Regions from separate parts of the Homo sapiens genome. Here region 2 is linked to region 1. The links come from fine-mapping of genetic effects on gene expression. A gene starts in region 1. The other region holds a variant in brackets. All regions are shown on one strand. Distances are from middle to middle. Region 1 holds the start of DCBLD1 (discoidin, CUB and LCCL domain containing 1). Region 2 overlaps DCBLD1 (discoidin, CUB and LCCL domain containing 1).

Region 1 (16,741 bases):
GCGGTTATAATTTGAGTTTGAAGATGCTGACTATAAAAACTAACTTGGGTCTCAATAAACTCCAAATAGTCTAATAATGAACAAGCCTGATCCATTCAATACAAATTAAGAATCTCACCAAAGAAGGATTAAAAAAATACACCTTACCTTTCTGATACTTAGTATGTTTAAACTTATGTACTTTTCTCAAATAAAGTATGTATAGGCAAATTATTTGACTCCATTAGTAAGAGAGAGTAATTTGAATAATATAAAACAAAAACATTGACGAGACACATCAATTATAAGTTGGCCTGGACAAAAATTCCACTTTCCTATTAGATATTTCTCAGTAGCAATAAATGACTTAGAAATAAGTTTTTGGTTTACTTCAAGGCAAATTCTAAAATAAATATAAATATGGAATTTTTCCAAGTAATAAAAAACTTTCAATGAAACACAGATTTAAAAAATCAGAATATAAAAGCATACACAGACTAGGGAGCAGAGGGGGGAACCCAGGTATTAGTTTTATTGTTGTTCTTTATACCTTTATTTATAGTCTATAATTTTGTGTCTACACAATATTTAATAAAAACAATAGTAAATGTGTGTGTACACACATGTATTTGCTATAGGGGTGTGTGTGTGTGTGTGTGTGTGTGTGTGTGCATTTACATAAAAATATATAGAACTAAAACATGTCCTCAATGGTTCTATGTGTAGCATTTTCCATGATTATGATATATCAGGACAATGTTATTTATGGACACCCTACTTTGTTTCACAACTGTTCTGCTTCTGTTGTAAGCATTAGGGAAGATCATTGGGAAAGTAGGGAAGAAAGCTCCAACCTAAGAGAAATTTATTCTTTTTTTTTGAGACGGAGTCTCGCTCTGTCACCCAGGCTGGAGTGCAGGGGCGTGATCTCCGCTCACTGCAAGCTCCGCCTCCCGGGTTCACGCCATTCTCCTGCCTCAGCCTCCCAAGTAGCTGGGACCACAGGCACCCGCCACCACGCCCGGCTAATTTTTTGTATTTTTAGTAGAGACGGGGTTTCACCGAGTTAGACCATGATGGTCTTGATCTCCTGACCTTGTGATCCACCCGCCTCGGCCTCCCAAAGTGCTGGGATTACAGGCATGAGCCACGGCGCCCGGCCTCTTTTTTGTTTTTTAAAAAAGCTCAAGCACAGCTCTATTTTTAAAAGGGGGGTGGTATGGGGGTAACACAGAGCTACTTAAGCTGTTACCTCATTTCAGTATTATCCTTTGCAGCTTTTCCTACAAAAAAATCTACCTAGCCTAAAATTATTGTTGATATGGTTTGGATGTTTTGTCCCCTCCAGATCTCATGTTGGAATATGATCCCCAATGCTGGAGGTGGGGCCTGGTGAGAGGTATTGGATCATAGGGACAGATCCCTCATGAATGGCTTGGCACCATCCCCTTGGTGATAAGTGAGTTCTTGCTACTACTTCACACAAGAGCTGGATGGTTAAGAGCATGTCTCTTGCTCTGTCTCTCACTATGTGATGCACATGCTTCTCCTTCACCTTCTGTCATGACCGCAAGCTTCCTGAGGCCCTCACCAGAGGCTGAGCAGACGCTTATGCTATGCCTGTACAGCCTGCAGAAACTTGAGCCAAATACACCTATCTTCTTTATAAATTTCCCAGCCTCAGATATTCCCTTACAGCAACACAGAACAGACTAATACAATCATATATAATTATATACAAGACACAAGGCATTTCTGCAAATATTGGGTATATTATTACACAGCATGTAGCTCCTAAGGAAATAGCTAATAACGAGATTAATAAATCAAGTAGAAATGGCAGTAAACAGTAAAGTCATACACGACAATATGGCTTAACACAGTGCTGATGTCACAAATGCCTAGACACTGTCCCCAAATGATGTTTGAGGTGAAGTAGGCCCCTGATACCCTAAATGTATAAGCATTAGCAGACCATAGGGGACCCCCGGTCTAAATCAGTGGATCATTTGCTCAAGACTGCCGGCCCCTCACTCATGGCAGTTTTCCTGCTGTTGCCTGTAAAAGGGTCTCAGAGATTCCCGGTTCTTTTCAGAGTTGAATTTAGTTATTTTCTTTTTGAGACAAGGTCTCACTCTGTTGCCCAGGCTGGAGTACGGTGGCAGCATCACAGCTCACTGCAACAGCTGCCTCCTGGGCTCAAGGGATCCTCCCACCTCAGCTTCCCTAGTAGCTGGGATTACAGGCATGTGCCACCACGCCCGGCAAATTTTTGTATTTTTTGTAGAGTCGGGGGTTTCGCCATGTTGCCCAGGCTGGTCTGGAACTCCTGGACTCAAGTGATCTGTCCACCTCAGCCTCCCAAAGTACTGGGATTACAGGAGTCAGCCGCCCTGCCCGGCCTAGTTATTTTCTTAAATACCTGCACAGTGTTTCCTAACGCTCCACAATAGTCATATATACAATTTCTGTTTAAAATAACATGAATATTATCCTCCTTTCAATTTTTTCAAACCTCAACCACAGCATTCATGCGCTGACTCAGGAACTAGTAGTTACCCGGAGCCTGCTATGTGCCAGGCACCGTACTGGGTGCTAGCGGTGAAAGAAGAGGCTGAGATTCATCTCTGCTTTCATGGATCTTAGGGAATCCTCCAATGCTTACCCCACAATCCCACAAAACCCCTCCTCTTCAACTCCCATTGAAAGGCAAGTTTGACAGTTGGTTCTAGATTCAGCATACCAGCGCTCACAGTCACGACTCTATTTCCACATCGGGTAAGAAGTCATCACATGCGTTTGCTTTATTTTTCCCATAAACTAAGTCTCCCTCACCCAGTAAGGCAAACAACTATTTTTTTTAACATACAAAGCAGACAATAAACATCTGGAAGATAACATCCACATGACTCCTCAGTTTGGAAAAAGGCAAAACTACTCCTCAGTCTAATGAAAAAAAAAAAAATCTGAAATTCTGGCTGTATTTTTCCCTTCACCCTCAATGCCAAATTTCTAATATGCCAGAATGAATTTCTCTATTTTACATACGTACTTTCAGACTTTTACATTCAACATTGGATTAGACATACAATTTCATTACTTTGCCGTGTCCAGGTTTTAATTTCTTTTCTTTTTTTATTTGAGACTGGGTCTTGCTCTGTTGCCCAGGCTGGAGTACAGTGGCTCAATCTCAGCTCACTGCAACCACTGTCTCCCAGGCTCAAGAGATCCTCCCACCTCAGCATCCCGAGTAGCCGAGACCACAGGACACCACGACACCTGGCTAGTTTTATTGTATTTTCGCTAGAGATGGGATTTCGCTATGTTGCTCAGGCTGTCTCAAACTCCTGAGCTCAAGTGATCCGCCTGCCTCAACCACCCAAAGTGCTGGGATTACAGGTGTGAGCCACCTCTGGCCAGTTTTGATTTCGTAACTAGAGTGAGGTTGAGTCTTACAGGGCAGGAATTGTGTTTTCACTGCCTTCTCACCCCATCCTCACTAAGCACCCATCCCCTATTGAGCTCCCAATATGGCCACTGTTCAAGGCACAAAACTCATAGACCTTATAATCTAGTAGGAGGAAGGCAGTCAATTTAAAGTGTAAATTATACACTTTGTTGGAAGAGGGTAAGTGCTCCAGAGCAGTGGTCACCAACCTTTTTGGCAACAGGGACGGGTTTCGTGAAGGACAATTTTTCCGTGTATGGGGCTGGGTTGGAGGGGGATGGTTTCTAGATGAAACTGCTGCACCTCAGATCATCAGGCATTAGATTCTCATAAGGAGCGTGGCAATCTAGATGCCTCAAACATGCAGTTCACAATAGAGTTCAAGCTCCAATGAGAATCTAATGCCCGGCTGATCTGACAGGAGGCGAACTCAGGCGGTAATGCTCCATTACCTGTTGCTCACATCCTGCTGTGTGGCCCGGCTCCTAACGGGCCAGTGACAGGTACCAGTCTGCAGCCCAGGGCTTAGGGATCCCTGCTCTAGAGAAAACTGAAAGCTAAGAAGGGGAATATGGAGTTCTGGGAATGAAGAGAGGGTTTCAAGTGCTTAGGAAAGTTCTCCCTGAGAGGACAACATCTAAACAAACACTGAAGGAGGAGCAAGCTTTGTGGATATTTGGGGCAAGACTATTCCAGGCAGAGAACAGCATGTGCAAAGGTTCTGAGGTAGAACAGTGCTTGTCATTTTGGAGAAATAGCAAAAAAACCAAACAGCTAGAGAGGCCTGAGTATGGGGGAGCATTTCAGGGAATGAAGTCAGAGAGGCAGTGGAGGAGACAGAACAAAGAGTCCTCAATATTTGTCAAATCAATAGTAATAAACAGTAATGAATACTAAGATAGCTAACATTTATTGATTTGTTTTAATAAAGAAAAACAACTAATTGCTCTAATACGTACAGAGTTGACTTTATGCTTTAAGACACATGTAGAAATAGGTGTAAACACTATGGGGTATATTTCCCAGAACAAACTTTTTTTCCCTGCTTTAACACAACTAAAACCTTTGCTAAATGCTGCAATTAAATTCATGCCCCCATGTATCTTAAAAATAAGACATAATTCCTCATAAATGTCAGATGCCTTACTAATTTCCAAGCTGTGGTTTTTTAAAATGATTTTCAAGTCTGTGTCAGTTCCACAAGGTTAAAGGGTTCAAATTGTAACATGAAAAGTTAATAAAAACAGTTTGGGACATTATTCAGAGTTCAAATTCTGCTTTAAACATACCATTTGATTTGTTTAATGAATTTTTTAACATAACCTCTTTCTTCTCTGAAATATTAATATATAACTCACTGTTTCTGAGTGTTACAAATTATATCTACTAGAGCCAAAAGATATTGTACATATTGTTCTGCTGGCATGTTCCCTTCTTTCTGCTGTATTTTCATTTAAAAGGCATCCTTACATATAGAAATAAGCATGCCAAGAGAGCTGGGCTTGATAAACAAAATTAATTAGTAGAAGCAGCAGATGTACACCTTTATAAAGAATGTCAGTAGGCTCTTTATTACTTGGTTTCCATTAGTTAGGAAGTCATTTGAAAATATATCCTAAACACAAAGAGATTGTTCAGTTCAACTCAAGGAACACTGAGCACCTTTGTCAGATACTAGGAAGACAAAGACTATATAGTCCCAGTCTCTGCCCTCAGGATCTTACAGTCTACAAGGCTAGCTGTCCAGATGAGACAACAGAAGGGTGAGTGCACACACTGGTACAGAAGGTGACAGAATAAATTTGTGCTGATTTTTAAAAAAGCCACTCACCTAAAACATCATCTATCAGCTGATCCTATGTCTAACCCAAAATAAATGACAGATGATTTAACAGCAGACCTTCTAAATAACAAATTAAGAGTTGGGCAGAGGGTTTTGAAGCAATTCTTAAGTATGCAAGATTTGAATCTACACTTGGAAGTTTCCTCAGAGATCAAGCGCTCATTTTGATTCTTCACTTAAATCACAAGGGAATACTTTAGCTAATAACCATTTGCAAATCTTGTGGTGGAGAGAGAAGCAGGGAGTTTTAGGTTGCACAAATTCATTACACAAATGAAGGGTATTTTATTCTACAAAAATGTATATCAAGGTAATAAATTTGGACTAAATCCAAACCTACGAATTTATACAAGTGGAATAAAAACTAATGATCAACTTAATGTCTTATTATGAAAGGTCAAAATTATGTGAAACAATCTATGTAAATATGTACCTTTAGTTAAACGGATCCAGAAGAACAGGGCATAAGGAGCCGAAATAATCCCAGCTCTGGCCACTAAACCCCAATGCCTGGACCTGGCTGGCTGCAAACAACGGGAGGGGTGGACACTTTTTTAAAACTTTAATTCAAGAAAAACACCAGATAGGCAAGCAGTTGCCCTACAAAGGACCCAGTATAGCTTTATGGGGTCACCAGACTCTGACACACAAAAAATTAATTAATTGTATTGATTAGGCTTATAAACATTCAGGTTAAGTTATACCATTTGTTTCCTAAAACCACACAATAAATAAAAGTCTAATACGAAATTGCCTATAACACAGATGGTAGCATTTTATCACAACCCTAACATTATAAAATTATAAAGATTTGAAGCCCAGTAAGAATCTAAGCAACCACACATGCCTGTAGTCCCAGCACCTTGGGAGGCCGGGGTGGGTGGATCACTTGAGCTCAGGAGTTCAAAACCAGCCTGCGTAATATGGCTAAACCCTGTCTCTACAAAATATACAAAAATTAGCCAGGTGTGGTGGGATGCACCTGTAGTGTCAGCTACTCAGGAGGCTGAGGTGGGAGGATTGCTTGAGCCCAGGAGGTTGAGGCTGCAGTGAGCTGAGATCGTGCCACTGCACTGCAGCCTGGGCGACAGAGTGAGACACTGTCTCAAAAATAACAATAATGATAATAGGTTTTTAAAAAGAATCTAAGCAATCACACTTGTTCCTAGAGAACCGCTCTCACAAAGTGCCCAGTTAACAGCCTGGATGACCATACAAAATCTAAATCTTTATTGGGAAAGATAAGTGACAGCTTTGGCCAGATTAGTACAGGAACATACTGCTGGACTGATTCTCACAGACGTATAGTATTAAAGGTGCACCTTCAAACTGTGAGTTGAGAAAAAAATAAAAATATTTAAAACATCCATTATAAAAGTCCTACGCATTTAACAAAATCTTACGTATTTATTACAATTTTACAATCTGCCTAGTATTGTGCTACAGTACCAGACAAAATCACTTTAGGGTTTTGGGGATTTTGTTTTTTTAAACAAACTGGTATGTAATATAAACTTAGGAACCACCACCACCATCTCGAGTATCAATGTTTCAGAATGGAGGCATAGTTCAGTGAAAAAAATGCCGGCATTGGTTTTAGTTTTGATTCTTGTTTCACCAGAAAGCATGGTGGTTGGGGGAGCTGTCAAAGTACTCCGGATAGACTCAGCGCCATTAAATAAGCTCAGGCATATACGGCCAGGAGCAAGGGAGGAGAGGAAACACTGAAACAACTCGGCAGAAAGCTGGCCCTTGCTATTAAAAAAAAAAAAGCACTAATTAATGAGGACGAATGAAATAGGGACACCCAGGGCTGGTAAAGGGGGTTGCTGCTTTAATATGCTGGACAGGCAGAGGGTAAACTCGGTTGTGGGTTAATTAGGTCTAACTCCAAGTCAAAGACCAGCTCCAGAGAAAAAGCAGCCTGGTTGAGAGTCTACCGGCTCAAATACACAGGAAGCCACACGATTCCAACTTGCGGCGCCAGCAGGACACTCGAGAGGAGGTGGCAGCACCGCCTGCTCGCCAGCGTCCAAGGCCAACCTCGGCAAACGTGCCCCGGCCATTCCGCACGAGCCCCGAACGCACACGCCGGGATTCCAATTCCGCGCGGGAGGAGCGACGGCAGGGAGGGCAGGGCCCAGCGCCGGCCGAGGAGCGGCTTTGTCAAAAGGCAGCTGGAAAGAACTGGCCCTGCACACGGCTGTCCCCTAAGGCGACCCTCGGGGTCAGGTCACTTCTCACGGGGCCAGCAGAGTCAGGAAGTCTGGAAACTAAGTGAAATGGGCTGGGGGGCGGCGGAGAGAAAGTGCAGAGACGCCAGGTTAATTCTCTGGTTTTGGGGGAAGGAAGGAGTTTGGTGGGGGAGCGACAAGGAATGCAGTAACCTACTTCACCCCCAGCCCCGCGGGTAGAGCCGGACTCCGCGGATGGCAGGCGGCGAGCCCGACTTCCTCCCGCGCTCCGTCCCCCCAGGCCCGGCCCGCCCCGTAGCCCTCGGCCCGGCCCGGCCCGCCCCGCAGCCCTCAGCCCGCCCCTGGCGCCTCGGGTCCCGCCGCCAGCCGGACGCGCTCCACTCACCCAGCTCCTCCGCCTGCAGCCGGAGCGGGGCGGAGACCGCGAGCAGCAAAGCCAGGAGGCCCCGCCCGGCAGCCCGCGCCAGTGCGCCGCCGCCGCGGGCGCCGGGCACCATGACCCCGCTGGGCGCCAGCTTGGCAAGCTCGGCCTCCCCTCGACGGATCCCGAGCCGCAGCTGCCCGGGCCGGGCCGCCTCCTCTGCGGACGAGCGCGGCGCCGGGACGGGGCGCAGTCGCTGCCCCGCACCGAATCCCATTGGGGCGGCTTTCAGCCCAGCCCTGCGGGGGCGTCTCCCGCCCGGCCCCGCCCCGCCCCGCACGTCGGCCCCTAGAGGAGGAAGTCGCGTTCCCAGGCAGTGACCGACGGCGAAGCCGGAGGCGAGCGAGGCGCCGCCCGCGCTCCCCTCCACGTATCTGGCGCGCCCTGCTGCGCTCCTTCCTTGCCTTCCTCCCCACCTGCACCAGTACACGTGAACCTGCTAGGCAGCAGGACACCTCGCCGCCGGACCCGCCCCTCGCCGCGTGGTGCGGGAGTCATTCCTAGATGGGCTGAGCCCGCGGCGGTGCCTTGGGAGGCTGCCCCCTCCAGGGTTTTGCCAGCCCGCGGGGATGGGCATGCCAGGGATAGCAACACCGAGGGACTCGAAATATTTTGATGATAGGATGATGACAGTGCCAAGTAGGACCTTCACTGATTTATTCACTCATTCATTCATTCATTCAAAAGTTACTCAGTTCAGCAGTGTGCTTGTCAGGAGCAGGGCTAAACCCATGTGGCACTTGCAGACAAAAATAATCAGGCAAGTATTCAATGCAAATTGCAATCAGTGACATGAAAGGTGCTGTTGAAGCACATTTAGAGAGCTGTAATTAGATGGCGGGTAACAGGGGTGAGGGCGGGAATCAGCTAGGAAAGGCCTAAGTGGCATCAAAGCTGAGATTAAAGCAGGAGCCAAAACAGACAAGTTGTGCAAAGAAGCTGAAGGAGGAAAGGGCCAGGTAGCTGGAGCACAGTGAACAGGTGGGTACACGGCCAGATGTAGAAGCTAGTGTACAGAGTAGGGGCCAGGACGTGCAGCTAAATAACCTAAAGGATGTTTAACTTGGTCCTCGGAGTAGTGAGCAGCCACGGAAGGTTCAGAAGGGGGAAGGACTCCACCCGATGATCCTCTTGAGGAGTTGCGGAGAAGGGTTTGGGGAGGACAGATTGGAGACTGGAGAATTACAGGGTTATCACCGAGTAGTTGAATAGGGTGGTGGCAGTGGAAAATGACGAGGACAGATTAGATATGTATTTTAAGGACTATCTCACGTCTCTGGTCCCCTGTAGTCCCCGTTTACTTCCTCTGCGCGCTGCCCTCACCTTCGCACCACCGCGCGGCACGCTGAAGTTTCACCTAGAGGTGCAGCGCAGGGAAGCGTGGAGGCGGAGAGGAAGCAACAGCCCCTCCAATGGCAAACATTGGCCCCTCGTGATCTTTGGATACCCTGGACAGACTCATTTCATACATGCGTTCCTTTTTTCCTCTTCCTTTTCTTTTTTTAACTAAATAAACAAGCTGATAAAATCTCAAATGAGATTGTCTTTGGGGCTTTGCTTTCTCTGAGGCAGCATATCTTAGATGAAAGAACTTGGGCTTTAGAAATGGAGGGGATCCCGGTTTGATTCTGGACCTCAGCTTTGTTGAAGAGCTGAGGTCCAGAATCAAACTGGGTATATATGTGTATATTCAGTGTATACTGAATTTGTATATTAAGTTCTATCATGTAGAGAAAGTACCTAACTGAATGTGTATATTGGGTTCTAGCATGTAGAGAAAGTACCTAATAAACGGTAGGTTTTATCATTTTTTAACAGAAAGTAAATTCACACCCATAAAAATATTGAGTATTCTTACACTCAAAAACACAGAACGATACTTTGATACGTTGAGTCTCCTCCTAACTTCAGTTTTCGCTTTTTCTTATTTCTCTTCATTCTTTCTAAGTGAGTTTGGGCAGCTGCTTCCAGGCTCCAACAGGTTTGACACTGTGAGCTATGAATGAAGCAAAGACAATGGGGAGTATTGTTTAACAGTGAGGAATTCATAATGTGAGGCAGGTGGGCTTTCAGGGGTGACTTTTTTTTTTTTTTAACTTCAGTCAGTACCTTGATGGGAATGGAATTATCTGCTGTACACCTGAATCCTGAGCCAGATAAGGGGAAAGATTTAGGATCTGGTAACAATGAAGAAACAGAAAGACCAGCCAGATCCTATTGATTTCATCATGCCATTCCTTCCTTGAAATGTAAAATCTCTAGTTAAGAAAGTCATAATAAAAGAAAAAAGTGAAAATACAACAGATTATAAAATATATATACTGGGGTGTGTGTGTGTATACATGTATATGTATATGTATGTATCATTTTTAGAGAAAGGGTCTTACCATGTTGCCCAGCTGGAGTGCAGTGTCTATTCACAGGCCTGATCACAGTGCACTACAGCTTCCAGCTCCTGGTCTCAGTCCTCCTGCCGCAGCCTTCTGAGTAGCTGGAACTACAGTATATTTTTCTATACAATGAAATAAGCCTTGTTGAATTAATATACTTGTTTTAATCTTGAGACGATTCCACTTTGATTTTTTAAAATGATGCATGATGGAATCTAAGAACCAAGTTCCATTAAGAAAAATTATGCTTATTAGGATCTACCTATAAACATTTCACATACTAAGATGGGAAATATCTCTAGGGAAGTGTCTCTCATAGGCTATTGCACTTCTAACCCATCCCCCCACTTGCCATCCAGTCCTTATTTTGCATATCTTACTGCAATTTATGCTTACATTTGCCAGCTCTTCTGTAAAAATACATAACAGCTGGTCAGGAGCTGCCTTATTTTATATTATAAATTATGTGTTCTGTCTTGCTTAGGTAAGACAGAATTTAAACAGAACTGCAAACCTAGCATGATTCTAAACAGACAGCTTCAAAATAGATTGTAGTCCAGTTCAATGACCTAATTCAATTTATCCTTAACATTTAGTAACCCTGCCTGTGACTCTATGAAGAAAACTATCAGCTATAAAATTGAAGCCCTTATAGATGTCTGATATGGTTTCAATCTGTGTCCCCACCCAAATCTCAAGTTCAATTGTAATTCCCAATGTTTTAGACATTTTCCATATGTGAAACAATGTGACAGCAGTACAATAAAAATAAATACCTTCTCTTCCTGATTTATGATCTAATAATAAAAATTTGGGAAAGTTAATTATACAGACAAAATGAATTATATCGATTGATAGGCACAGGGATAGCAGAGGTACAGGGTACCATGGAATCACAGAAGAAGGGCATATAACCTGGATTTTAAAAGTCTGGCAGGGCCTGGGAGAGGTGAAGATATTAATTAGAAGGAAAACAATGTTTGTCAGACAAGGAAAAGATATTATTTTTAAAGCTCAGAAACAGAGATCACAGGGTGCTTATGAAGATTGAACCTGGCCAGGCACAGTGGCTCACACCTGTAATCCCAGCACTTTGGAAGGCCAAGGCAGGTGGATCACCTGAGGTCAGGAGTTTGAGACCAGCCTGGCCAGCATGGAGAAACCCCATCTCTACTAAAAATACAAAAATTAGCCAGGCATGGTGGTGGGTGCCTGTAATCCCAGCTACTCAAGAGATTGAGGCAGGAGAATCACTTGAACCCAGGAGGCAGAGGTTGCAGTGAGCCGAGATCATGCCATCATACTCCAGCCTGGGCGAAGAGCGGGAGCGAGACTCTGCCTCAAAAAAAAAAAAAAAAAAAAAAGATTGAGCCTACATTATCAGTGAACTTGAGCCTGAATACAGAGTGGGAGGCAGAAGCAGGATCTCAGGGTTCTGGGGGGTAGTGGGAAGCAGGGAAAGTGTAGAAACTTGTTCAGATTTGCATTGTAATAGGTGTCAAGATTACGGCAATAGAGGAGCAATCAGGCTCAACTTTGAATTCAGGGATTCAGTGAATCCAGTGGGCAGGGTGAGGGAGTCCATGATGAAAAATCACTAGGAGGAGACATCGGGGTAGAGGGGATTCTTGTAAACTGGCTTAATGGGATTCTTGCTGAATGCAGGTCAAGGACTTATATGTCAAAGATAAGGGAGGAGAAACTTGATCCAATACAGAGGGTGGGGTATTCTCTCTGAACTAACTTAGCAGAATTCTTGCTAAAGCTGGACTAGGCAGGCCAAAGACAGGGTTCAAGGACAATGCCTAGATAAAAAGAAGGCTCAGGGGAGCTTGACTGTTTGGTCACAGAGAGTCTTTGTCACCCCCATGTGGATATTTTTGCCACAAGCACTAAACAGCTAGGCTACAAAGGTCAGACCCCTCCCTCCCTGTGGCAGAGCTCAGCAGGGCACAGTCAACACTTTCCTCCCAAAGTGGCCTTTCTCTAATTTTCATTTCTGATAAAACTTACCATTGTCCTACGATTCCTTCTTTAGGCATGCTATTGAGGCAAGCATGCCTCTCCTATCCAGGCTTTCTCCCTTATTCCGTCATTGTGTTTGATTCATTATTCACTAATTTACGGTATCACTTTCCAGGGCCAGCCCTATTTTTAAATTCTAGTTGCCTCTGTACTACATGCGATACATTTGTGTCATTTCAAGAAGTAGTTTTTGAAGAAGTTTCATATACTTGATCTGAGTTGGTTCTTATGACAACCCCAGGACAGCTGTTTCCTAATTGTGTTTCTCTTTCTCTTCTTTCTCTTTTCTAACTTTTCTGTTAGGTTAACTGTTCACTCTTTCATCTTGCCCAGAGACCACATGTTGAAAAATGTCCTTGGGAGCTTGACCTTGTAACCATGTGGCAGTACTTTCTCTTGGTCTCTGCCATCCAGGGAGCAGGAATTTGGGGGTTCATGTCATAGTTATTCCCAAAATTTATGCCTTTGCAAACTCAAAATTGGTTGCTCTAGACTCCTTCTGGGAAGTGCAATGGAAACTTCCCAATGTTGTAGCTTAATAGTTAAGGCTTATGGGTTTCACCTGTGAGATTATTTTTGGTAAAGTTCAAAAGCCAGAAATATTGGCAGTTTGGCATGGCTAAAGGTGGTAGTAAGAGATTTAAAAGGACTTTAAAAAAAAAAAGAGTGCTATGGTGAAAAGTCCACTTAATTGAAAGTGGATATTCAAGTTCTAACAGCCTGGGACTCCTTGGGAAAAACAGAGGAGATGCCCCAGATCCAGCACTGGGAAAAACCTCTGTTTTCCTCAGAGAAATCAGTAATTGAAAGTGGATAGATCTCTCTCAAAATCTTAGGCTCTGTTCTGTTTTGCATTACATTGTGTTATCTGATGTTTTGACTCTTGGGTATCAAAAACTACTTTGTGTATAATAACTAGGTAGGAAATATACTTTTAGGAAAGGCTAATGGCAGTTATGGGCGAATACTTGACTCTTTGGTGTTTGGATTGGAGAAGTATGCTCTTGGCCACCTGGAAGGTATGCAGATGTGTCTCCCCAGCCCCCACACACCCAGAGATAAGACTCCTATGAGGGATGGGCTAATCACAGAATGGACTGATTGGCTTTAGATTGCTTTGCAATGAAATGCACAGTAAAATCACTGTACTGTCTTTTTCCATAGTGTTTCTCATTTTGGGGATCCAGGATCTGGTATAAAATGGGACCCTTAATTTTAGGGGAATCTGTTTTGCCTTCCAGCTGTGCCTGCTTATTAGGCTGTAGAAACTGCCTGTTTTCCTGTCCCTGTTCCACCCTGAAGCCAGTAATTCAATTAAGAAACACGGGCAAATGAAAAATCTTACAACTAGTAGATCTTCTTCTATTTATCTGTGTTGTGCATGTGATGTTTATATATACAGGAGCTCTAATTAATTGGCTTAAAAAATAATAAGTGCTTAAACCAAACATTTCGTCAGAAAAGTAAGAAGTGTAATGCCTTTTAGTTCACATAACTTAAGTAATCTTTGGGAAATAAAAACAGTTTTACATGCAAGTTGTGTAAGGAAAGTGAAATGTGTTTTTGGTAAAGATTATATAAGAAACCATGGGAATGTGGATTTTTTGCCTAGATTAAAAGGTTAAAGGATTGTTTTAAGTTAGATAGGAAAAAGCTGAAGATTTGGGCAAGTTGTGGAATGTTTGTGAAAAATTAATCTTGTAAAAGAAATTCTGTATATGAACATATTAGCTAAAAGTTAAAGGAGTATTATTTAGTTTTTTCATAAATTGAACATTGGAATAAAAGCACAACAGGTTTTTTCTTACAACACTAGTCTGCTCTGTCACAAAAATTGTAAAGGATTAGAAAAGGTTTATAAGAATCTTAGTGTTATGGTCATAATGATTAAGATTGGATAGATTTGTTTATAAGGTTTTATTAAGAATTAGGTTTGACATCAATAGTGCACTAAGGCAAGGGTAAATTTGGCTCTCTCTCTTGAACAAGATTTTCATGTAATATTTTAAAAAAAGAAAGTTTTTTGTCTACCCTTTTGAATAAACTGTAGAAAAAAAGAAAGAGACAGATTGTTTGGAAAGTTAAGTTTTCCCTCTATTGATGAGTAAACGTTTTTGTCTTTTAAAAATTTTTGTGGCCCGGCGCAGTGGCTCAGGCCTGTAATCCCAGCACTTTGGGAGGCCGAGGCAGGCAGATCACCTGACATCAGGAGTTCAAGACCAACCTGGCCAACATGGTGAAACCTGTCTCTACTAAAAATACAAAAATTAGCCAGGCATGGTGGCAGACACCTGTAATCCCAGCTACTCAAGAGGCTGAGGCAGGAGAATCACTTGAACCTGGGAGGCGGAGGTTGCAGTGAGCCGAGATCGTGCCACTGCACTCCAGCCTGGGCAACAAGAGTGAAACTCCAACTCAAAAAAAAATTTTTTTTTGAGCTCCCATTTTAGCTAAATGAGTGACTTTTGGTAACCTAGGATTTGATATTTGAGAAACTTTCCAAAATCAAATTGTAAATTGTGACTTTTTCTGATGCAATTAATCTTTTAGATATTAGGGGGTCACTGTCCAAAAATGACATTTGGCTTATTTGGTATAAAAATCATACAGGAAGCATTGTTAAATATGAAATGGTGTTTGGCTTTCTTTGAGTTGTATTGCATAAATATGTTACTGCTATGTGTTCCAAAATTATGGGAAACTCCTATAATTCTGATAGGACTTAGTCTATGTTATTAATAATTATCATTGTTACATAAAACTGTTTTATGCCACAGAAGTAACCAAAATTTCTAGTCAGTTGTGGTTTTAATAATGGCTGTCCTAGGACTTTTTGTCATCCACAGACAGTTATTGTCTTGTTTGGATTCTCTTCAAAAGATAGTTTATAGTCAGCTATAGGACTTTGACAGGTGCTCTTGAATGCAGGTTTCTGATAACTTTGGAGACTGTGACATTAGAATAGAGGAAAAACTTCCAGGACTTTCATGGAGAGCTGGAATGTTCATGAATATTCATGGACTGAACATGTAGAAGGCTGAAGTATTTTTTTTTTAACTTTTTGCTTAAAATATTGTAGATCCTTGGTTTTGTTTTTCAGAGTCAAGAGAACTTTTGAGCTATTGGCAGCTTTTAGCAATTGAATAAAGTATACTCCCATGAGCAAAATTTGGAGCATATTTGTTTCTCTCTACCTGATTTTTCCAGAATTTGAAGACTATTTGTGAATATCCTTAACTTATGGAAATATAATTATTTGCATAAGTGCAATAAGAATGTTTTCTTTTGCAACAGGATGCAATTGGAGAAACTCGTTATTTTACCAAGGCTTTAACTGGAATTATGTGTTTTCCTTTAAGGAGTGTAACTTGACTTACAGAGCCAATAAAAGTCCCTTGGGAAAACTGGCCTCATACCTTGTCTACACAGTCCCTGTACAGGGTTCCTGACGTGTGATAGGTAAAGAATGTCACTTTCCGACAGGCCCAGGAACCCCAGGTTATCTTGGGACTTCAAGAGGAGAGGAAGTTACCCAACTCATAGGTATTTGAGGGTACAAACCCATGACTGGGCTTAGCTTTAAAAAAAAAGTCTTTTCTGAGATTCCTTATGAAACAGAGTTCCATCAAAGCCAACTGAAAACGCCTATGTGAAAAATAATTATTTTTGCTGTACTGTATACAGATAATCAGGCCAAGCATAATAAAGCATATAGGTCTTTTTTAATATACTTTAAGTTCTAGGGTACATGTGCACAACGTGCAGGTTCGTTACATATTTATACATGTGCCATATTGGTGTGCTGCACCCATTAACTCGTCATTTACATTAGGTATATCTCCTAATGCTATCCCTCCTCCCTCCCCCTGCCCCACAACAGGCCCCGGTGTGTGATGTTCCCCACCCTGTGTCCAAGCGTTCTCATTGATCAATTCCCACGTATGAGTGAGAAAAAAGCATATCGGTCTTACCATGATTTGTCTTTAGTAAAAATGGGAGACTGGAGAGAGAAAAATTATGTTCCAAAAACTGTGGTGTGCCGTTATTAGATTCTAGTCTCGTCAGTTGTTTTTGAGGTTTTTTTTTTCCCTGCAATTCAGACTAACCCCGCTTATTCTTGTGAACCAACAAGTGATCTCTGGCTGCTGCTCAGAAGAAACAAGACAGATGGGTAATGTAAAAATCTGGATTAGTATTCTAATTCTGGGCAGGTATTGGAATCATCTAGTGACTCCATATTAGCTTGGTTTCAACAATTGCCCAGTTCATGGAAAGCCTTCTTATTTAGTTTACTTGGGATAGTATTACTTATTTAGCTTTACTCTTGTGGAATATATTGTTATTGTACTCTATATGTAGGAATGCAGGATAAGCTTAATCAATGTTCTCTTAAATTGAACACATTAATTTTCCTGATATTACTTTCTGCCAGAGCTCAAG
Region 2 (16,741 bases), 43 kb before region 1:
GTCTTGACTCTAACCCTGTAATCTCCCTTAACTTCAGTTACTGCTTCTAAATGCCACTGCCTATGAACATGGGCCAACAACCTCAATCATAAAATGGGTGTTAGTCCCAAAGTTTATATGTGAGTTCGTAAGTCGGTTCTTCAGAACTTAAGACACATTTTCCAATAAAAGCAATGTTATAACTTGTGGTCAGGATACCTATTTGACCTATGACATTGCTAACTAAAATACACTTAAATAAAAAGTAGGAGGGGGAAGGAAAATACTACTAAACAATTATCAAAATAACATCAGAGTCACCATATCTATGCCGACTAACTTGAGAACCTATCCAAGATAAGATGGCCCATCATCCATTGTGAAAATGGAACAGCAAAATACGACCATGTTCCTTCTGATGCAAGAGGGGGCTAGGACAAAATAGCAAGGGCAGGGGGAGAATGTCATACAGATTAATGAGTGATAGAATATATAGGTCCTGACATTTTTTCCCCCACTTCTGGATCCCAAAACGCCTAAAACCTCTGTCTTGTGCCTTATTCTTGGAACCCAGGCCATATGAAAACCTGTCCAAAAAACAGTTGCAGAAGGCAGAAGGAGAGAATGAGAGAGAGAAATACAGTGGCTCAAGGAGCACTTTTCTCTCACTAGGTTTCCACTCCAGGAGTGTCTCCCACTTGGCCATTCTGAACTGCCTGTTTATATGTGTGGACGTCTGGACCACAGGGTAGGCTGACACTGAGTTCTACACAGCTCTAGTTTTACACCTTCTAATGGCTGAGGAAATCTGAAAATATGAAAAGATTAAGTTGAACCATTTAAAGCACTTAACACATTTTTTTTCTCATGAAGCTAAAAGAGCACAGGATAAAAACAAACGAAGAATATAACGTTAACAAAGGCCATCTTTTTAAACAGTGTTAACAAAGGCCATCTTTCTTCACTTCCCAAACTCATCACTAAACAACTGTCTCTAGGAGTGTTCTAGGGAGCTCAGTGGTTCTGTAAGGGTTTCAGATGATGATAACATTGGAGACAACCAGTAACTTATAGAAGCTGTAAAAACCCAAAAAGGATTAAGCCTTTATTTTCTCCCACAAAAGCACCTGAGAGTAAAAACACTCCTCTGCCCCAGGGCTTCAGAGTGTGCCATTTTAATTTACATGTCAGCATAACCAGTGAGCTTTCTGATTGCTACATTTATCATCCATGCAGAGACCAGAAATGCTGCTCTAAGCACTCATGCATATTTTTCCAGTTGACAAACCCTTGCTATCACATCCCTGCTGTCTTTTCAAAGTTGTGAGCTGGTTAATTATCCTTCAGGGTTACCTTCTACTCAGAACAAACGATACTGAAAAAAAATACTTACTCCCTCGAAAGAACACCATTGGCCAGAATCCCTTCATATCGACTGATCCCTTTGCGCTGAAGCACACTGATCTGGCCACCTAGTTCATCAGCAATTATTCCTGCATGGATGGCAGCTTTGCACAATAAAGAGGTCTGAAACACAGCAACATCATTATGCAGAACTTAAAAGAACACAGTTAAAATATAGTTGGAGTTTTCTATTTTGTTTCTGTGGTAATTTATAGTAGTGGCCCCAATGAATAAAGCCTTCCAATGGCCATGCCCTGGAGTTGTCACCTCCCTCACTGACTCTGGACCATGTGACTTGCTTTGTTCTGCTGCAGATAACAGGGCCTAGCTAACTGCTACACATGTGAGTGAAGCCACCTTAGACTCTTGAGCCCCAGTTAACCTGCCATATGATGGCAGCCACAAGAGTGATTCCAGGCTAAGGGAGCTTACTAATCCAATCCAGTGTGGGTGGAGGCAAATTGCTCACCCTCAAACTCATCAGTAAATAAAATGGCTGCTACTTTAAGCCACTAAGTTTTGGAGTGGCTTGTTAAGCAGAAATCGATAACAGATCCAGTTTCTTATACTTAGGCTATTAGACACACATGCCAAGTTATCATTTAAGAAGCTGAACTTTCAATTCCACATGTTCATTTTTAAATTAGAGATTTATCAAGGTACCAAAACCACAATGGTAATGACAGCCACAGAACATTAAATGGAACAGAAAGCTTAACGAAGTTCCTAGAGGGATGATGAGCAACTCAGGGCTGACAGCCTCCATCTCACTTCCTGAATCCCCTCAGGAGGCATCAAAAAGCCAGTGCCAGCTCAGCCCTGCGATGTTCAGTGTGAGGTCTCAGCAGGCTGCTGGCTGTTCTGACAGATGCAGCAGGAACAGCAGACTGGCTCTGATTTACAGGCGGTTGTGGGATTGGAATCGGCTCTGTCAGGAAGTGGCGCTACAGAAACGACTAGAACTTTCTATGGGGTGCCCAGGCCTGTGGGTCCCCAAGTGTAGACCTCTGTGGAAGAGTGTTAAGGCACTCAGACCCAGGAGTGAGGGGATAAGAAACATAATTTCCTAAATAAACCTTAGCTATGCTCCACTTCTTCATGACTATTAATGCCAACATAGAAAGGCAGCTCATGAAATTTATCTCAGTAACTGGACTCAAGAATTTCTCTTTTTGTTAATGACAATGCTGCTTACCTTATTTACAATGGAAAAGTTCCCTTAGACTTAAGTTACAACAGTATAAGGACTAATGAGACAAATCATATTTTGCAATATAGTTGCAATAAAGTTGAGAATTTTGTGATATTCAATTTAGAGAGTTCATATTTCCCAAACTAGATTAGGTTTGGCAAAGTGAGTCAGTTTTGCAATAACTGCTATCCTAACAAAAGAGAGGAAAGATTTCACCACAGAAAGAAAAAAAATGAGAATACTGAAACAGATGCAAATACTACCCTCCCTAATCTTGGAGGAAAAAAAGAATTAAAATTAGAAGAGAAAAAGATCGTAAAGATCGTACTCTTTAATAAGAATGCAGGTTGCTTTTTCATCTTTCCTGAATTTTCTGTATATTGTTCCTGAATTTTCTTTCATTAAAAAGCTTTCTTATCATCAGTTTGGACTCCTGGGTCCAAACAAAACAGAGGAGCCAGTTGAAGAGGAAAAGTCCTGAATTTAAATTTAGCAATTTATCTTGTCATCCTGGCTTTGCCTCTAACTCCACAAAGTATATGCAAGTCATTCCACTGCTCTTGACCTGGCTTCCCATTCCTCTGGACAATGACAAGCCTGGACTGGATGTTGTCTAGTGCATGGGTCCCCAAGCCCCCAGGCTGTGGACTGGTACTGGTCAGTGGCCTGTTAGGAACCGGGCCACACAGCAGGAGGTGAGGAGTGGGCAAGCACACATTACCGCCTGAGCTCTACCTCTTGTCAGATCAGCAAAGGCATTAGATTCTCACAGGGGTGCAAATCCTACTGACAACTGCGCATGTGAGGAATCTAGGCTGTGTGCTCCTTATGAGAATCTAATTCCTGGTGATCTGAGGTGGAACACTTTCATCCTGAAACCATCCCCCACCCCGTCTGTGGAAAAACTGTCTTTCACAAAAGTGGTCCCTGTTGCCAAAAAGGTTCGGGACTGCTGGTCTAGTGTCTTTTCTGAAGGTCTGTCACCTTGTGATTCTAAAGGGTACCCAGTACACCGTTTATATTATAGGACCCATGCAGGCCTGTCTCCCTCGCTAAACCCCAGAATGAAAACCAGATCAGTTCAGTGGTCTGCTGAGCAGCTATTCCCACTGTCCTTGGGATCCCCGGTCTTCATACTAGGAACCCTGCCTATTGAGAGCTCTCACTGGACTTGGCATGTCCCAGGGCCTCCTTGGCTGTAAGATGACAGGTTCACAGGCCAACGAGCAACAGGATCTAACAGCATCATTGGCCAACAAATATTCTCGTTTCTCACAGTACCCAGTATTGAAGGAATTCAATGGTGAATACCTTTTTTATAAAATTTTTATTTAATTGCAGCTATGGCTTTCCATAATAGGTTGATGCAAAAGTAATTGTGGGTTTTGCCATTTCTTTTAATATTAATTGTAGGCTATAGGATACATCTCCAAAAGACTAGCCATCAAGTCTCACTATCATATTATTATGATAAAATTACCAGCATTTTCCAGGATTATTTTCTTTAAAATAGTCACTCCCTCATCCATCCAACTTAAAGGAAATTGATGTTTATTTGTCACTTTTTTGGTACTGATTTTTAAAATTCACATTTATTGAACCTGATTTTTGAAAATTCCCTTTTGAACAGATGGTACAATTTATACTTTTATTTTCTAGCTATTTTGAAGTCTAAGTCTCACTGAAATGTAAATATTGGAAAGCCATATTACTTAACCCATGTACATGGGTACATATTACCTAGCATATGTACCTAGCCTATGTACATTCTGCTCTGTAGAGCAGAACGTCTCTACAACCAGCTGGGCAGAATTTGCTGGAAAAAGAAAAATAAATAATTTATATTTTATTAAATTACACAACCAAAAATACTAAACTGTACTTAAATACTTTCTGTCCTCCGTATAATATCTTGCTTTAACGGCAAATTAGAAACCTGATTTGTGAAAATATAGATTGATCTACAATGTTCATCTGAAGGCAACTTTTACACAATAATTATTTGTTTCATATAAGGATTCACCATAAAGTCTATTAAACAATGAGCTTCCTGGCTGGGCACAGTGGCTCACACCTGTAATCCCAGCACTTTGGGAGGCCAAGGCAGGTGGATACAAGGTCAGGAGGTCGAGACCATCCTGGCTAACACAGTGAAACCCCGTCTCTACTAAAAATACAAAAAATTAGCCGGGCATGGTGGCAGGCGTCTGTAGTCCCAGCTACTCATGAGGCTGAGGCAGGAGAATGGCGTGAACCCAGGAAGTGGAGCTTGCAGTGAGCCAAGATCACACCACTGCACTCCAGCCTGGGTGACAGAACGAGACTCTGTCTCAAAAAACAAACAAAAAACAACGAGCTTCCCTAATGCATTTTACTTGATTCTAAGAGGTTCGGCTATCCCTGACAAATGGTTTTAATTAGTAAATTATCTTAAACAAAATATACTTAAACAGAATAATGTAAATGTAATAATTCTTTAGGAAAGGGAATGCAATGGCCAGCTGAAGAGAATACCTTCATGCCTCAGGCAATTGCAGGTGGATGGCATTATCTACAATAAACATTTCTGAAGTTCACTAAGCCATAAATGATGGCCAAACAGATTAGTGTGAACTAAGGCTAAACAACTTTCAAGCAACTATCAAATCATCCCAGAATTTTCTTAACTCTTCCTTTAGGAAAAATCAACTTGTACTAAAACAGTGTTGGCAATGTTTTAAAAGGAAGTGTAACAAAAAAGTAAACATTTTAGGTTGCATTTAATAAAACATGAACCAAAACCAGTAAGGTAGAATAAAACACATGCTTAAAAATGTTGGTGGAATGATAGCAAAATGTTAAATTATCAAATATATTCCCCTTTCCATCATATGAATTATTTCTGTGCTGTTACAGTCCTCCTAATTACCATGTCAATAATGTTTTCTTCACAAAATGTGCATTCTTTATAGAAATGCTGGAAATAATGAAAAAAAATCACTCATATTGTCATTACCCAGAGATAATCACTTGCCATTATAATGTATTCCTTCTGGCTTTTTCTGGGTGTGTACAAGAGGCCCAGTTTCTCCCCTTCTCCTCCTAAACTGCAGCGCACTACATGTTTACTGTCTCTATTTTACAGTACTTCTTGAACATTTTGGGGAGAGGAGAATTGCTGAAACAAATTAATTAAGTGATATGTTCTGCTTAAAAACAGATGGTTTAGTTAGCAGGCTGGGGAGAAGGTGCCAAGAGAAAAACTGTTCTGGGGGCAGGTGAGGCAGATCTTAAGAGAAGCCCATATTCCTTCACTGGCATTGGAAACATACACCAATTTGGATGCCTTAATTTGTCAGTAGGAGACAGAATTACAGAATCTCAAAAATTCAAAAAGGACTTTAAAGTTCCCCCCTCACACCTCCTGACAGACCACCCCCATCTCCACTCTACAGCACCTTTCCCACACAAAGACAGTCTATCCCTGACAAATGGTTTTAACATCTACACCTGACATTTTCAGTGACTAGGAAATCACTGTTTCTCGAGACAGCCTATCCCATTTTGCATTGTTCAATTATTCCTTATATGCAGCTGAAATTGGCATCCCTGTAACTTTTATCCACTGATCCCAGTTCTGCCTTTTGGAGCAACACAGAATAAACCAATGCCTTTTCTATAATAGCTCTGTAAGACAACATATTCTTCCCTGAGACAGGGTACCTCCTTCTTCAACAGCTCCTCTAGTTATTTATTTTACATATTCTGTTATCCTGACCTATAGGATATGCTTTGGTTTTGCAAAGATTCTTCTGAAAAGACTTGCTACAACTGAACGCATTTCCCAAGATGAAGGCACTGTGGAGGCAGACTCTAAGATAACCCCCATGATCCCTGCTCCCTGTATCCCCTCTTGTGGAATCCCTCTGAATCCCCCTGAGTGTGGGTGGGGGCTGAGATTTTCTTCTAAGTCTATAAGAATACGGCAAAAGTGATGGGATACCACTCCCATGATAACATTATATAAGAGTGTAATCTATCTTGCTAGGAGATCCCTTTGCTCAAAGACTCTCCCTTGTTTGCTTTGAGGATGCAAGTGGCCACGTTGGGAAGGTCCACATGGCAAGAACTGAGGATGGCCTCCAGCCAAAATCCAGGAAGAAACCGAGGCCCTCAATCCAATAACACACAAGTAACTGAATGCTGTCAACACCACATGAGCTTAGAAGCAGATCCTTCCCCAGCTGAGCCTCCAATGAGATTGCAGCCCCAGCTGACACCTTTGTTGCACCTTTATAAGACCCTGAAGCAGAGAACCCAGCTAAACCATGTCCAGTCTCCTAACCCACAGAAAATGAGATAATAAATATGTGCCACTTTAAGCCTCTAAGTTTATGGTAATATTATTATGCAGCAATAAATATCTAATACATCCATGACATTGACATACACAAAAAAGGCACTAATCCGAGTTCTTTGAAGAGAGTAGCTTTCAAAACACAAAATTTCCTTGCAGATAAAATCATTCTAAAAGCAAATAGTGCAAAATCAGTTAGTGGGTCAAATAGGAAACCTGTTTGCCAGCACTTAGGGATCATGTACTCCCATCTACCATGCAGGAAACCATTTACCTGTTATGCTAAAAAATATAGCTCTGTCAGGAGGAGGTAAGATAAATATCTACATTAAGAAAAAACTATGCTATTTCTCTTATTGTACATAATTCTTACATTTCTTGCATAGAACAGGAAAATGATAAATAAAAACTTTCTATTGCTGGGAAAAAATGTCAACTTTTTATTTCTCTTAATTCCCTGTAGTCATTTAAGAATTGCCTGAGCCAAGTAAATCTTCAAACTGAAATAGTGTAAAACATTTTAAGAGTCAATTTATAGGTCAAATGAGTATCCAGTGTCAATCTTGTAAATAAAAAAACAGAAAAGGGGAACGAAAGGCAAAATAACAAAATCTGCTGTTCCCAGAATCAGAATGTGCTAAAAGAGAAAATCACAGTCAAACTTTTTCCCTATGCCACAGAGGATTTATCAATCACCTAGAACAAGTAGATAAAGGTTATTTTCCCACAGGCATAAAAATACACGTTAATAACTTTAAGAACAGTTTCACAACAATAGGTTTTTGCTATAGATTTCTAATAACTCAGGCACTTTCCAAAAGCTAGGCTATAAACCCAACTACTTCAAATAGCAATGTAAATTTTTAAAAAATCAGATACTAGATTTCTGTAAATAGAAACAAGTGGAGGATTATGTATCTGAGATACAACATGCAGGAACAATGTATTACTACATAACCCAGGTAGTCTTACTGGACATAAGAACTTGGTTTGCAAAGAGAAAGGCGAATAAGAGCAGGGTGGATGGCTTCACTGGCCCCAGACACAATGTCACTATTCTATGATACGAATATTCATGTCCTTTGCTCTATTACAGGAACCAGTTGGAATGTTAAAGAAATAAACCATAACAAAAAGGATGCAAATCTATAACCTCTTACAAAAAGTGGATGGAATAATACTCTGAGATGGCAAAGTTTTTTCATTTCATTTATAGTAAGCTTAGCTGGAAATGCTAATAGGAATGAATGCATGGGTAACCTTGGTTTTTATACTTATTTCATTTATTCTCAGAGGAGAGAGACTCATGCATCTATCTAGAGTTTTATATCTCATTTGACTTTACTCAGTAATTAATTTAGGCAGAGTAAAGCACTTACTCCTTTTAATTCATTCTCTGCCATTACCCTCAATTACTTACATCTCTATATCCATCTACCATATTCCCAGAAATGTCTCCTGCTACGTCTCTACAACCAGCTGGGCAGAATTTGCTGGAAAAAGAAAAATAAATAATTTATATTTTATTAAATTACACAACCAAAAAAATTAAACTGTACTTAAATTTTTAAAGTATTTTCTGCCCTCCATATAATATCTTGCTTTAATGGCAAATTAGAAACCTGATTTGTGAAAATACAGATTGATCTATAATGTTCATCTGAAGGCAACTTTTATACAATAATTATTAGTTTTATATAAGGATTCACCATAAAGTCTATTAAACAATGAGCTTCCCTAATGCACTTTACTTGATTCTAAGACTTCCAATAAATATTTTTCAGAAACAGGAACATTTCTAAACATTATATATAGTATAATCTTGTTTCTATAAGAAATGTTTAAAATATGTAACAATTTTGTTTTCTATGGATAAAAAAGACAAAGAAGAATATCCCTAGATTCTCTCTGGGAGTAGGATTGTGAGGAACTTTCACTTTCCGTGTTATACATACTGTAATATTGCCATAATATTAGCACTGTCTGATAGAAATATAATGGGAGCCACATATACAAATTTAAATATTCGAGTAGTCACATTTTTAAAAAGTAAAAAGAAATATGCAAAATTAATAATATATTCTATTTAATCCAGCATGTTCAAATTTTATCATTTCTAAATGTAATAAACAGAAATAAATACCAATAAGATATTTTCTCTTTTTTTGATTTAACTTCCAAAATCTGGGGTGCATTTTATACAACACCCCTCAATTTGCACTCACCACAGTTCAAGTGCTCATTAGGTACCCGTGGCTAGTGGCTACCGTATTAGATGGTCTGGCCTACATTAGTTATGAAATACTTTTGCAATCAGAAAAAAAGGATATATTTTAAAATTAGGATTCCAAGGCCGGACACAGTGGCTCACGCCTGTAATCTCAGCACTTTGGGAGGCCAAGGCGGGTGGATAACCTGAGGTCTGGAGTTTGAGATCAGACTGGCCAACATGGTGAAACCCCATCTCTACTAAAAATACAAAAAAATTAGCCCGGTGTGGTGGCAGACGCCTGTAATCCCAGCTGCTTGGGAGGCTGAGGCAGGAGGGAATCACTTGAACCTGGGAGGCGGAGTTTGCAGTGAGACCAGATTG[C/T]GCCACTGTACTCCAGCCTGGGGACCAAGAGCAAAACTCCGTCTCAAAAAAAAAAAAAAAATTAGGATTCAATTTACTTAACAGTCATTTTTCAAGAAACTTTCCAGAAACATGTCATAGTATGTGGTGCAGCTGAAGGGTGTCAGTGTTAGGAGCAGAGTGACACAGGCTCCAGCACTACCTAGCTAGCAGTGGGACCCTGATATTGCATATAATCTCTCTTAGATTGTTTCTTCATCTCTAGTCCCTTCAAGTGTCAACATATCAACAAGATATGAAGACAGCTATAAACATCTATAAAAAACACACAAAAAGGAAGCCAAAGTATTATAAAAATGTTGTCAGCTTTGAAGATGCATGCCATGTGCCCTTACTTCTATATAGACACCACTTTACATAATGTTTACTTGGTTTGTTTAAAAAGAGTGTACCAGCCCAAACAGATTCCAGAATAGAAGTTGTTTTTATTTCATTTCCTCTCAGTGTCCTCCTGCTGCCTTGGCAAATTATATATGTAACAACTAATTATCAAAACTATCCAAATAAATATTCCATAATTTTTTCCCATTGACCTTTTGGAGTCCCTGCATTGCAGCAGTACTCGCGGAATTAAGAAATAAAAATAATGGGAATTCCCATTACAGGGTAACAATTCCCTAGAGCCAATTCCCTTAGAATCAGCTGTATTTCAGAATTCAGAATTTCTTGGATTCTAGAAAAGTAAAACAGTTCTAATGATGTATATGATGTAATACGCTGGTGGGGTCTGCACACATTAATAAAAAACATTAAAATACTTGTGTCAAATGCCTTAATAATCATATTAAATAACATATGTAAAGACATGTTAATCTAGTCCAATTTTGCTGTCAAACGAATTTAAGGTCACATTAATCAAGAATCACCACCAAATGAGTTACAAAAGGCTTTCAAAACTTTCTATACTTCATAATTATGGATGAGGGCTTGTGGACCTGTATCAGTCACCAGGCCTTATCTTTAATCTAAACACTACAAAATGGCTGGGCTAAAGCTGAGATAATCTGGCACCATAATGCCACCCTGTAAGCTTGGATATATTCCCTTTCTTTAGGAGAACAGGAAATGACCATTTGATGTCCAGAGGCCCTATCACCAACTGGGACTGTAGAGGTATAGCTATAATAGATAATACTGGCATATGTGTATATTGGATGAACAGTAACTTTAAAACCAATATTTAATTATCACTCATTTTCATTTTTCCCCCTATTAGACATAATATTAGTTAACACTAGAGTTGTTTCTGCACATAAAATAATCTCATTCATTAGAATGTCCAAATGTCTGAGATAGGACCACAGGCTCTTAAGTCTGACTCCCAGGCTACACTTACGAGGTGTGTAGCCCTCAGCAAGTCTTAATTGGTTTGTACTTTGGTTTTTAGGATGTAACAGAACCTTCCTTGCAGACATGTTGAAATGGTCACAAGAGCTACTTACTCTGTGCTAAGTGCAGACAGCTATATCGAGCACTAGGAAAGCACTCTAGAGAGTCATAGCTGGGTGCCATGATTCACACTTGTAATCCCAGCACTTTGGGAAGCTGAGTCCAGAAGTTAGAGATCAGCTTGGACAATATAGAAAGACACCCATTTCTAAAAAAATTTAAAAATTAGCCAGGTATGATGGTGCACACCTGTCGTCCCAGCTACTTGGGAGGCTGAGGCAGGAGCATACTTTGAGCCCTGGAGTTTGAGGCTGTAGTGAGCTATAATTATACCACTGCACTCCAGCCTGGGCAAAAGAGCAAGACACTCTTTCATAAAAAGAGAAAAAAAAAAACAGTCATAGTTTTTGTTAGTGTTGTTGACAATGATCTCTAGACTAGTGGCTCTCCACTGGGGGCGATTCTGCCCACCATGAGACATTTGGCAATGTCTGGAGACATTCTTGGTTATCACAACTGACATCTAGGACATAGAGGCCAGGGATGCTGCTAAGTATCTAACGACGCACAGGACAGCCCTGCAATATAAAGAATTATCTGACCAAAATATCAATAGTGCCAAGGCTAAGAAATTCTGCTTTAGACTGTTTTACTTGATAGATGAGCAAATGTACATCAAAGTGACTAAGTAGTTTTTCCAGCTAAAGCTGGGTTGAAAATTTTCATCTTATTTGCAGTAGGTTTTTCTCTAGTGGTAAAGACAAAATGCACCTCCTCCCAAATGAAAGAATTTTAAAGGTCACTCCCAAATACCAGCCAGGAAAAAAAATACAGTCTAGACTCGGTAATGATTCATTGGCCCTATAGTGGAACTCAGGGGTCAGCAAACTATGGCCTGTGAGCCAAATCCGCCCTACTGATGTTTTGGTAAATACAGTTTTATTGAAACACAGCATGTCTGTTAGTGTATACATGGTGTCTATGGTTGCTTTTTTGCTACAACAGCAACAGAGATTATATGAATAAATGCAACAGAGATTGTATGGCCTGGAAAACCTGAAATATTTATTATCTACCCCTTGACAGAAAAGGTTTGCTGACTTCCTGCTATATAACAAACTATTTCAAATATTCCTCATTAGTTACAACATGAATGGTAAAAAGAGCTTTAAGTACAAACGTATCTGGTTTAACGTGAAAGAAAACAAAATGTTCAGCAATACACGACTGCAACACAGTTAGGATACCTATACTTACCTGTATTCTGTCTTCAAATAATGGCTAGCTCGTTCCAAACATGTTATTAAATCTGTCATAAATAAAGATAATTGCAATTAATAGAATGAATAAAAACTAGGACACTCATGCTGCAAAGCTTTCTTTTAAAATAAAAGAGTTTTTAAAAAGCATTTATTCACTATGTAGTTATCAGAATTTTCCTTTTAAAAATAAACACTGAGAATCACTGTCTCCAGTATTTAATGAGTTCCTTTCGTTTCTTTTTTCTGCCACCAATGACAGTTTTTCAACACAATCACCTAGTAAATGATAGCAGAATCTGTAGTTAACAGAAAAAAACAATACTCTTTAGTTGCTATCCACTATATGCCTATGAAGACCATGTGTATAATGTCCCCTGGCAGGAAGAAAATAATTTCAAAAGCCCAACACAGTTCACAGAGAAGGTTCCCACAAACATTTTAATTCAACAATTTAGCCAGTGGCATCTGGTGACAGAGAAGCACATCTTTACCAAGAAAACCTACAGCATATAAGCTTTCATCAACCAGGACAAAGCATTTTAAAAAAGAAGGTGCTCTCTGGAGTAATTTACAGAACCAAACTAATATTCAGCAATAGAGGCTAAGATACAGTGGACCTTGATGCATTTAGATCAACATAGTATGGTTTCCAAAATATTCCACACTTACTGTAATAGTTCTTTGGGAGCAATATATGGTGAACACTGGCAATGCAGGCATCTGCTGTGATTAGTCAGAGCTGATTGGCTAAGAGGAAAATGAATGGCGCACCTCACTCCCAGAGCTTTTCTGCCAGAGAGGACTGACAGCAGAAACCTCTATGACCATAGGCAGATTTGGTATGGGCTGCACAGAATTACTCTGAAGCACAAGAGCCCAGGACAGGAGCCCGTGCTTCTCTCTCTCATCAGTGTTCGTGTTTCCCTTCCCTTCTCTCCCATACAAGTTTTCAGCTTTAAAGTTATTACACTGTGTGACACTGACTTCCTCATCCTACACACACTGTGCATGCCTCCCGTGCTGGTGTACTGGCGTGTGTTGCGGAGGGGCTCACTGGTGAAAAGCGTTGCCCCTGAGCTAGGGAGGAGGATGGGGGAGGGCTCCAGAGAATAGTGAAGACTTCGAAGGGTCAGGAGGGGAACACAAAAGTGTGTTATCCAAGGTTTTTAGGAAAAATGAGATGAATCCTATCCCATATAAGTCAACTGATCAATCTAACATGCTAATAAGCTTGTCCAACCCATGCCCCTTGGGCCACATGCAGCCCAGGATGGCCTTGGATGCAGCCCAACACAAATTCCTAAAGTTTCGTAAAACATAATTATAAAAATTTTTTGCAAATTTTTTTTAGCTCATCAGCTATTGTTAGTGTATTTTATGTGTGGCCCCAAGACAATTCTTCTTCTAATGTGGCCCAGGGAAGCCAAAAGATTGGACACACCTGTGCTGCAATATGATTCAGTTCAGACCTAACCATTTACAAAGATACCATGTTCCTCTTCTCCCTCATATCTTAATTCTGCATCTGAGTCCACAATTATGTCCAGGGATGGGGATAAGTGGCAAGAGGAATTCTTAGACAGATAACATTTAGAGATTTGTGTTGATTCTTCCGTTATACCTGGATGGTCGCTGCTCGCATAGGTCAGCAAAAAACCCCGGCCAGAAATGTGGGATCCACTCTCAAAGCGGACGGTTACTTCACTTGTGTTCAACAAGAGTTCTTTGGGAACAGTCATACTTCCACAGTATGGACCTAAAAACAAAGCACACTTGTGGCACATTTCAAAATTTATACCAGCACAAATGACTGGTATATGGCATTTTTTTCCTTGAAAGGCCAAATTTACTAGACAATACATATGTATGATTATAATCTTTACCAACTGAAATTTAGCTTGACGCTCAGACTGATAATTTCTGACTGATTGTGAACTAAGCCAAGGGGGAAAGTGGCTTACTCTAGACAAGCAATAGGCTGGAACTAGTTAACTGTGAGCAACCCAAGAGATAGGTTTTGTTTTTTGTAAAAAGAAGACAAAGGTCAAACACATTAGGTAGTAAAGAAAATTTTATTACAAAAATGTTATTCTAGGGGCCTCCTAAATTTGCTCAAATAAACTAAAAAAATCATTTTTTCGGGGAAGTTTTAAAGTTAAAAGACTTTGCAAAGCATGGTAAGAATTTTATTCACATGCAGCATTCACATGCAGCATACACACTGATTTTCCTTTACAGTAACTTCTGGTTAATCCCCAAAATTCATTTTGATTTATAAAATGTACATAAAAGCAGAATAATTTCTAAAGCATTTTGAAATATTATAGTACAAAATTATACAATTAAGGGTATAACATTGTTTCCAAAATAAGTTGCTTGAAAAGCAATAGGGATCTCAATGAACTTTCAAAGGGCAAAATTACATTTGGAGCTTAAAATAACGAAAACTCTTCCTAAGACTACTCAAACTGAAGTTTAGCTTTTAACTTGTCATTTCGAAAGTAACATACGCAAGACAATCTCTATGAAATAGAGATTAGCAAGCAAATTTTGAAGAGAGGTATTATTTATTAACTTTTCTCAAAAACAGTATGGAAATAGTCAGCGGCAACAACAATCATGATGAAGGAAGAAGAATAAAAGAAAAAGACTGCTCCAAGTCAATACGAATAAAACCGGGTTATATTAACCAGAACCAATAGGGACAAAACTGCTTGATATGGTTTTGCTGTGTCCCCACCTAAATCTCATCTTGAATTCCCATGTGTTGTGGGAGGGACCTGGTGGGAGGTAACTGAATCATGGGGGAAGGTGTTTCCCGTGCTGTTCTCATGACAGTGAATAAGTCTCATGAGATCTGATGGTTTTTTAAAAAAGGAGTTCCCCTGCACGAGCTCATTTCTTTTGTCTGCCACCATATGAGACATGTCTTTTGCCTTCTACCATGATTTGAGGCTTTCCTAGCCATGTGGGACTGTAAGTCCAATTAAACCTTTCTCTTGTAAATTGCCCAGTCTCAGGTATGTCCTTATCAGCAGCATGAAAACGGACTAATACAGTTAAGTTGGTGCCAGTAGAGTGGGGTGCTGCTGAAAAGATACCCGAAGATGTGGAAGTGACTTTGGAACTGGGTAACAGGCAGAGGTTGGAACAGTTTGGAGGGCTAAGAAGACAGGAAAATGTGGGAAAGTTTGGAACTTCCTAGAGGTTTGTTGAATGGTTTTGCCCAAAATGCTGATAGCGATATGGACAATAATGTCCACGCTGAGGTGGTCTCAGATGGAAATGAAGAACTGGTTGGGAACTGGAGCAAAGGTGACTCTTGTTATGTTTGAGCAAAGAGACTGGTGGCATTTTGCCCTTGCCTTAGAGATTTGTGGAACTTTGAACTTGAGAGAGATGATTTAGGGTATCACGTGGAAAACATTTCTAAATAGGAAAGCATTCACGAGGTAACTTGGGTACTGTTAAAGGCATTCAGTTTTATAAGGGAAGCAGAGCATAAAAGTTCAGAAAATTTGCAGCCTGACAGTGCGATAGAAAAGAAAATCCCATTTTCTGAGGAGAAATTCAAGCCAGCTGCAGAAATTTACATAAGTAATGAAGAACTGAATGTTAATCCCCAAGACAATGTGGAAAATGTCTCCAGGGCATGTCAGAGGTCTTCAAGGCAACCCTTCCCATCACAGACCCAGAGGCCTAGGAGGAAAAAGTGGTTTCCTGGGCCAGGACTAGCATCCCTGTGCTGTGTGCAGCCTAGGAACTTGGTGTCTTGTGTCCCAGCTGCTCCAGCTATGGCTGGAAGGGGACAACGTAGAACTCGGGCCAGGACTTCAGAGGGTGCAAGCCCCAAGCTTTGGCAGCTTCCATGTGGTGTTGAGCCTGCAGGTGCATGGAAGTCAAGAATTGGGGTTTGGGAACCTCCACCTAGATTTCAGAAGACGTATGGAAATGTCTGGATGCCCAGGCAGATGTTTGCTGCAGAGGCCCTCATAGAGAACCTCTGCTTGGGTAGTGCAGAAGGGAAATGTGGGGTCAGAGCCCCCACACAGAGTACCTACTGGGGTACCATCCAGTGTAGCTGTGAGAAGGGGGCCACCAGACCCCAGAATGGTAGATCCATTGCACCTGAAAAAGCGACAGACACTCAACACCAGCCTGTGGAAGCAGTGGGGAGGGAGGCTGTACCCTGCAAAGCCACAGGGGTGGAGCTGCCCAAGCATGGGAACTCACCTCTTGCATCAGCATGACCTGCATGTGAGACATGGAGTCAAAGGAGATCATTTTGGAGCTTTAAGATTTGACTGCCCCACTGGATTTCAGACTTTCATGGGGCCTGAGCCCCTTTGTTTGGCTAATTTCTCCCCATTTGGAATGGCTGTATTTACCCAATGCCAGTACCCACATTGTATCTAGGAAGTAATTAACTTGCTTTTGATTTTACAGGCTCATAGGCAGAAGGGACTTGCCTTGTCTCAGATGAGATTTGGACTGTGGACTTTTAAGTTAATGCTGAAATGAGTTAAGACTTTGGGGGACTGTTGGGA

What was found. PIP is the estimated chance that this variant, and not a neighbour inherited with it, causes the effect. A credible set is the group of variants that fine-mapping cannot tell apart.
Region 2: its variant is the best candidate, but not a certain one, in a credible set for the expression of DCBLD1 in esophagus muscle (GTEx, PIP 0.54).

What each region holds. Positions count from the first base shown.
Region 1 is chr6:117,474,003-117,490,743 of GRCh38, reverse strand. DCBLD1 (discoidin, CUB and LCCL domain containing 1) reads right to left here and starts at 8,070. Exons shown (of 15, transcript NM_001366458.2): 1 at 7,851-8,070. The coding sequence starts at 7,962. RefSeq lists enhancers at 7,035-7,084, 7,115-7,164, 7,175-7,254 and silencers at 7,615-8,194, 12,553-12,602.
Region 2 is chr6:117,517,025-117,533,765 of GRCh38, reverse strand. It overlaps DCBLD1 (discoidin, CUB and LCCL domain containing 1), which reads right to left. Exons shown (of 15, transcript NM_001366458.2): 3 at 13,816-13,950; 4 at 12,190-12,241; 5 at 8,332-8,404; 6 at 1,373-1,506. Among named protein-coding and RNA genes, the nearest start is that of DCBLD1, 43 kb to the right of the region's middle. The variant C/T (reference allele first, on the strand shown) is at 9,505.